2 linked regions of the Homo sapiens genome follow. The protein of the gene in region 1 interacts with the protein of each later gene in a pairwise test. Each region holds a gene or a part of one and is shown on either strand. Other genes may lie near its edges.

Region 1 (3,251 bases):
ACACCTGCAGCCTCCGTTAAGCACCTGGTTTTGCTGCCAGAGTCATTTCATCTCCTGTTCTCACTTCCACCCACGCTCCCCCCTACCACCACAGGCCTGACACCCAGCCCTCGGTCTAGCACCAATCCGAGGCTCAGGGAATTCTACAGCAAGGCAGGGAGCTGGCTGGGACCTCTGAAGGTCCACAGCCCCTCACCTTGCCCAGTGAGGTCAGCAACGGGAAATCGATGGTCTGGCGATGTCGCAGAATGCGCACGATGCCGTCCAGGTACACCTGGTCCTTGCTGAAACAACCTGGGAGGGCAGGAGGGCGGTGAGCCCCGCCCCTCGCCCGAAGCCCCGCCCCCACCCCGGCTCTAGGCACCTCCCCCGCGCTGGCGCACACCTGGCAGCGAGGTGTCGGTCTGGCCGCGCTTGGCGCGCACGCAGTACTCCCAGCGCACATCGGCGTCCTGCACGTAGCGCTCCAGGTCCTGGAAGAGCTGACGGAAGGACATGCGCGCGGCGCGGTGGATGGTGTAGTAGAGCAGTGCAGCGCGCCACAGGAACGGCTGCTTGCGGAACAGCACGCTGTGCAGGCTGGCCAGGCCCTCCTCCGTGGGGTTCGCCGGCCGCAGCCCGTACCGCAGCCGGCCCTCCGCGTTGTGCCACGGCTGGCGCGCGTTGTTCACGCCCCGCAGGTAGTGGGTGCCTGCGGGGAAGGCGAGGGGAGGCGGCGCTGGGCGGGGCGTTCGGGGACCCGCCTGCGAGCCCAGCCCTGGCCCTGTTCCATCTGGCCGGGGCTCTGGCCGCGACACTTCCATCCTCATGCTCCTGAACTCAGGCTCGCACACAGGCTCTCCCAGCCCCAGGCAGCGTGAAGCTCCTCCTCCTGTGGACTCGCACCCAAGGATCCACAGAGGCTCACATACATGAATCCTCTCCCACCCATCCGCCCCCCACCCTACACCCACGCACCCACACACGTGCACGAACTCTCCCAAACTGACATTGCCCCCAGCCCTCCTGGGCACAAGAATACATATACCACCCTGCCCAACATCCTGGGTGCCCATATCATCTTGAACAGTCATGCTGATGCCCCCGGTAAAAATCACTCTTGCCCAGAGCAACAGGATTCTCGAGGAAGAGGGACAGACAGATAGGAATAGTGGTTAGTGCCCTGCACCCCCCTGCCCAAACTGGCCAGTCCCCTCCTAAACCAGGTGCCATGTGTCCTCAAGTCAAGTCCATTCCCAGGACCTGGCCTTCCATCCACCCTGGAGGGCCAGCGTGGTGGCTGGCCTGGTGGGACCCTGAGGGTTCTTTCTCTGGCCGGTCAGGGCCTGACCAGCCTTGCCCGCACTGTTGGGAGAAGTCGGAGAGGAAGTGGAGAGAGAAAAATATACCCGAAAGGACCAAGAGATGAGAGCGAGCCCAGAGCATGGGCAGGCATGTTCTGGCCTACCTCTGTAAGCAGAGGGCGGGAGGTGGCTGCTCAGGAAGGGAAAGCCCCGACCTCAGGAGGGAAGGGGGAGAAACAAAAAGGGGAGTTATTGGGGCCCCTCCTTCCCACCCCTCCCAGCTCCCAGGCCCCTTTCATGCCTACCCATCTGCCCGGATACCCACACCCTGACCTATCTCATGCCGCAGCATGCCCTCCAACCAGTACTGGCGGGCTCCGGTCAGGTTGATCGCCAATGTGGGCCGGCTGTTCTCCACCATCATCACTGCCTGGGACAGCAGGTCCTCACTCAGCTGCACCACAACCTGCAGGTGGCAGTGCTCTGAGCCATGGCCACCAGCCTGGGGCCAGGGTGCAGGTGGACCCAATGATGCCACAGGGCAGCGAGGCCAGACAATTGGCCAGGGCACCCACCCTTCATCACCTCTGCTCAGAACCAGCTCCCACCTCACTGGGGCAGGGGCAGGGGTGGGTCAGGTGTGGAGCTGGACCTGGGACCGCCCACAAGACACCCTGATTTGGGGCATGTAGAGGAAGGGCTCTGCAGGCAAGCTCACCTCCCCAGCGCAGCCCTCCTTCTGCATGTATTTGCGCACAATCGACCATATCTGGCACTTGGTGAGCAGCTGCCCCCCAGTGGCAGCCTCAAAGTGTTCATAGGTTCCAAACTTCTCCAGAACAGCCTCAATGATGCCAACTGCCTGTACACGGGGCCACAGTGGCTGGTCAGGACAAGCCCCTTGGGTGGTCAGGGCCAGGATACGGTGGGGAGGCTGGACTGACCTGATGGATGAACTGTCCAGAGGCCTCGCAGTACTTTTCCAGCACAGCCGTGGGCATGGGCTCCTGGTACTCAAACTGTGGATTGTAGGTGTAATGGGACTGGAAGAACTTGTCTCGCTCACGGTCCATGTTGGTTGGCCGCAGGGCCACCAACATGCAGGGGCTCTTGCTGGCAATATGGCCTGCATCCCTTTGAGTCTTAGCAATGTGAGGCAGGGAGGCTGCAGGCCGCAGGGTGCCCCCACCTGGGTTCCGTCCCCGTCCAGGTGGAGGCCGTCCCAGGGTGCCACGCCCCCGCCGGCCAGTACTATTTACAGAGTAGGTGCTCTCACTGCGACGCATGTGGCCACGGTGGCCCAGGAGCATCTGTGAGAACGGCTGCTGCTCAGGCTGGGGCTGCAGCGCTGGGGGGACTGCCAGAGCCAGGGGCAAGGCCAGGGACTGAGACCAGGGGTACAGTGGTGGCCCATCTCGGTCTGAGGGCTTCAGCCTATGGCGCAGGGATGGGGGACTGGTAGGCGGGCTGGGGGGTGCCTGATCATACGCCTGAGCCCCTGAGTCCAGCACCATTCTGTCCTGGGGGTCACATCCAGCCGGGTCACTCCAACTCCCCACACTGTCGACCTCTGGGGACACAGAAGGGCATGTGGAGACCAGCATGAGTGGGTGTGACCAAACGACCAGCAGGCCCTGTACTCCACATTGCCTCTGCTGGGCCCTTGGTGGGCCCAGGCTCTGCTACCAGGGGTCTGATTGGCTGCAGCGTCCATTGCCTCCAGCAGACTCACCCAAATATGCTGGGCCGGAAGAAAGCACTTTTGTTTTCGTTTTTGTTTTTTGAGACAGGGTCTCACTCTGTTGCCCAAGGTGGAGTGCAGTGCAATGATCATAGCTCATTGCAGCCTCCAACTCCTGGCCTGAAGTGATCCTCCCGCCTCAGCCTCCCAAAGTGCTGGAATTAAATGCATGAGCCATCGCACCCAGCCGAAAGCAAGAGTTTTAAACACCCACCTAGGTGGTGGTT
Region 2 (3,819 bases), on another chromosome or scaffold:
CAGAAGGTGCAGGAGTAGCCATGAGTTCCATGATGGATGTCCAGGCTGACTGGTATGGAGAGGACTCAGGTGAGCTCCCTTAGCATTCATCAGCCCTGCCAGTGATTGAGTACACACTGTCTGTGCCTTGTGTTCTCCCATCATCATGATCATTATCACCATCATCATTGTCACTACCAACATTATCAGTACCATCATCACCAGTACCATCATCATTACCATCATCACCAGTATCGTCATCATTACCATCATCACTACCATCATCACCAGTACCATCATTACCATCATCACCAGTACCATCATCATCATTACCATCATCTCCAGTATCACCATCATCAGTACCATCATCATCACTATCATCATCACCAGTACTATTCATTACCATCATCACCAGTACCATCATCATCATTACCATCATCTCCAGTATCACCATCATCATTACCATCATCATCAGTACCATCATCATCACTACCATCATCACCAGTACCATCATCATTACCATCATCACCAGTACCATCATCATCACTACCATCATCACCAGTATCACCATCTCATTATGATCATCATCAGTCACCATTATTGCCACCACCACCACCACCAATATGCATTAATTGAGCACCTGCTATATGCAGGGCATTATTTCTTCATGTATGTTTGTGTTTTACCTCTACAACTGGAATGTAAGTGTGTTGGGGGCAGTTTGGAGACATGGGAGGAACCCACTCTCTTCCACTAACCGGCAGTGGGACCTTGGTTAAATCATTGAATCTCTTTGAGTCTGTTTTGTCATCTGTAAAACGGGAATAATCATCCCTGCCCTGCCTCTCTCACAGGTTTGTTGTGGGGACCAAATGAGAGAGTTTTCAGAACTTTTTCTCACATATCATCTTAGATTTCCTCTATGCTGGGAGGTCAGTTTTGTGTGGGGAGAATGAGATTGAAGTGATGTCCAGAGATATATGCTCCAGAGATTTATACTTCTCTGTGTCAGCCAAGGTGCTTGTCAGAGACTAGGCACCCAGCCTGGCATGCTTGATGATGCCATCTACTTGAGACTATTTGATTGATTGATTGATTGATTGATTGAGACAGGGTCTCGCTCTGTCACCCAGGCTGGAGTGCAACGGTGTGATCTCGGCTCACTGCAACCTCTGCCTCCCAGGTTCAAGTGATTCTTCTGCCTCAGCCTCCCGAGTAGCTGGGATTACCGTAGGCGCATACCGCCACGCCCAGCTAGTTTTTGTATTTTCAGTAGAGACAGGGTTTCACCATGTTGGCCACGCTAGTCTCAAACTCCTGACCTCAAGTGATCCTCCTGCCTTGGCCTCCCAAAGTGCCAGGATTATAGGCGTGAGCCACTGTGCCCGGCTGACTTGAGACTATTTTAGAGCCAGTATTTGACATCATGTGAGCTAATTTTTTACATCCTTTGGTGGGCTTTTGCGTTTTAAGAGAACCTGCTTGTTTCTTTGAACAGTTATGAGAGTTGAGTTAATATGGCTAACTCCTCTTAACAGGTGAGGTAATTGTGTTATAAGGTGTCTTGTAGGAGACAAAAATAAACTTGGCTGCCAACTTACTGATGAAACGTGGCTTCCAAACCTTAAGCCAAGGCTGGGCGCGGCGGCACGCGCCTGTAATCCCAGTTACTCAGGAGGCTGAGGCAGGAGAATAGCTTGAACCTAGGAGGCGGAGCTTGCAGTGAGCCGAGATCGTGCCACCACACTCCAGCCTGGGTGACAGAGCGAGACTACTTCTCAAAAAAAAAAAGAAAGAAAGAAAGAAAAGAAAAGGAAAAAAATACCAGAACCTCAAGCCAAGAAATTCATGAATTGCAGTCTAGTAGTGAAATATTGAGTAGTGAAAGTCTTTTCCTTTTTTTAGCTTCTGATTCTCTGAAGTGAAAGTCTTTTAAATAAAGGGAGATCAGCTATTTTTATTCATTACTAAATGGCTGTCTTGAGACTTTTTTTTTTTTTTTTTTGAGACAGGGTCTTACTCTGTTGCCCAGACTAGAGTGCAGTGGCATAATCACAGCTCACTGCAGCCTCGACCTCCCGAGCTCAAGTGATCCTCCCACTTCAGCATCCCAAGTAGCTGTGATTACGGGCATACACCACCACACCCAGCTAATTTTTTGTATGTTTGATTTATAATAGAGACAAGGTCTCCCTATGTTGCTCAGTTTGGTCTCAAACTCCTGGGATCAAGCAATCCTCTCACCTCAGCCTCTCAAAGTGCCAGGATTACAGGTGTGAGCCATTGTGCCTGGCCTGTCTTGAAACTTTCTAATTTCTGGGTTTATTTTATTTTAATTTTTTTGAGGCAGAGTCTCACTCTGTTGCCCAGGCTGGAGTGCAGTGGTGCGATCTCAGCTCACTGCAACCTCTGCCACCTGGGTTCAAGCGAGTCTCCTGCCTCAGCCTCCCGAGTAGCTGGGATTACAGGCACGTGCCACCATGCCTGGCTAGTTTTTGTAGTTTTAGTAGAGATGAGGTTTCACCATGTTGGCCAGGCTGGACTCGAACTACTGACCTCAGGTGATCCCCCTGCCTCGGCCTCTCAAAGTGCTAGGATTACAAGGATGAGCCACTATGCCCGGCTTCAAATTTCATTTTTTTAAAAAGCAAGAGCACTCAGTGTGTCTGATTAAAACAAGACTTGAAAAACTTGAAAATGGCCAGGTGCAGTGGCTCACACCTATAATCCCAGCATTTTGAGAGGCCAAGGAGGGAGGATTGCTTGAGCCCAGGAGTTTGAGACCAGCCCGGGCAAGATGGCAAAACCCCATCTCTACAAAAAAAAAAAAAAAAAAAAAAAAAAAAAAAAAAAAAAATTGAAAAATTAGCCAGGCGTCATTGCATGTACCCATAGTCCCAGCTACTCAGGAGGCTGAGGTGGGAGGATCACCTGAGCCTGGGAGGTCGAGGCTGCGGTGAGCTGTGATTGTGCTTCCAGCCTCGATGACAGAGTGAGACCTTGTCTCAAAAAAAAAAGGAAAAAGAAAAAAAAAAGAAACACTTGAAAATGCTGTTTCTGGTTCTGAGACACTGGCTTCACCAGCATTGGGAAGATAGTGGCTGCTTCCATGAACACACCGTGGGAACTTGTTCAAATTCTCATTGCTGTGTGTATAATGGCATTTCACAGACTGATCACCCTTTCACATCCACAAGTCTCTCATGGTGTCCCATGCCTTTGGCAGAGGAAATATGGAGAAACTGTTACCTAGAAGGGTTTAGTGAGTTTCGTAAGAATGTAAGTAGTAAGTGGCCCAGCTAAAACCAGAAAACTGGAGTGGCTTCTTTCATTCATTAAACAAACAGTGAAAGCAACACAAGTAGGTAGCGGATTTCAGTGCAATGATTTTTTTCTTTGAACCCCTCTGCATGTAAGCACAAGAAGTATCAGGAAATAGGCATTTGGCTCTGTGCCACTTATAATATATTCAGGTCCTGTCCTTATTGGTCTGGAAAGTCAGAGTTCTTGCTATAAGGTGTTGTGGTGTGGCAAGGCAGCTGCCCTGGCCCCTGGCCATGCCCTGTTGTCTACCATGTTTTTATTTCATTCATACGGCTCCAGGGTATAGTTTTTCCAAGTGCTAAGGCACAGAGTAGGATTGATTTGTTTGGTTATTCATTTATTTGTTCAAATATTTGAGTACCTTTTGTGTGAAGGCATAAAGATAAGTCAGACATGGATGCAGCCCTCAAAGAACTGATAGTGTTGTATAGGAGATAAGACACAAATGTGGGCCGGGCTCAGTCGCTCATGCCTATAATCACAGCACTTTGGGAGGCCGAGGCAGGTGGATCACTT

What was found.
Region 2: the proteins of MATCAP1 (region 1) and ZBTB8B interact in binary tests that used the Homo sapiens proteins (3 or more experiments, as listed by UniProt).

Annotation. Positions count from the first base shown.
Region 1 is NC_000016.10:67,177,814-67,181,064, forward strand, and holds part of MATCAP1 (microtubule-associated tyrosine carboxypeptidase 1), read right to left. Parts: intron 2,854-3,251; 5' UTR 2,798-2,853; coding exon 2,228-2,797; intron 2,146-2,227; coding exon 2,002-2,145; intron 1,750-2,001; coding exon 1,617-1,749; intron 692-1,616; coding exon 386-691; intron 295-385; coding exon 197-294; intron 1-196. UniProt on the Homo sapiens protein: Tyrosine carboxypeptidase that removes the C-terminal tyrosine residue of alpha-tubulin, thereby regulating microtubule dynamics and function. Also able to remove the C-terminal phenylalanine residue of alpha-tubulin TUBA8.
Region 2 is NC_000001.11:32,471,547-32,475,365, forward strand, and holds part of ZBTB8B (zinc finger and BTB domain-containing protein 8B), read left to right. Parts: coding exon 1-69; intron 70-3,819. UniProt on the Homo sapiens protein: May be involved in transcriptional regulation.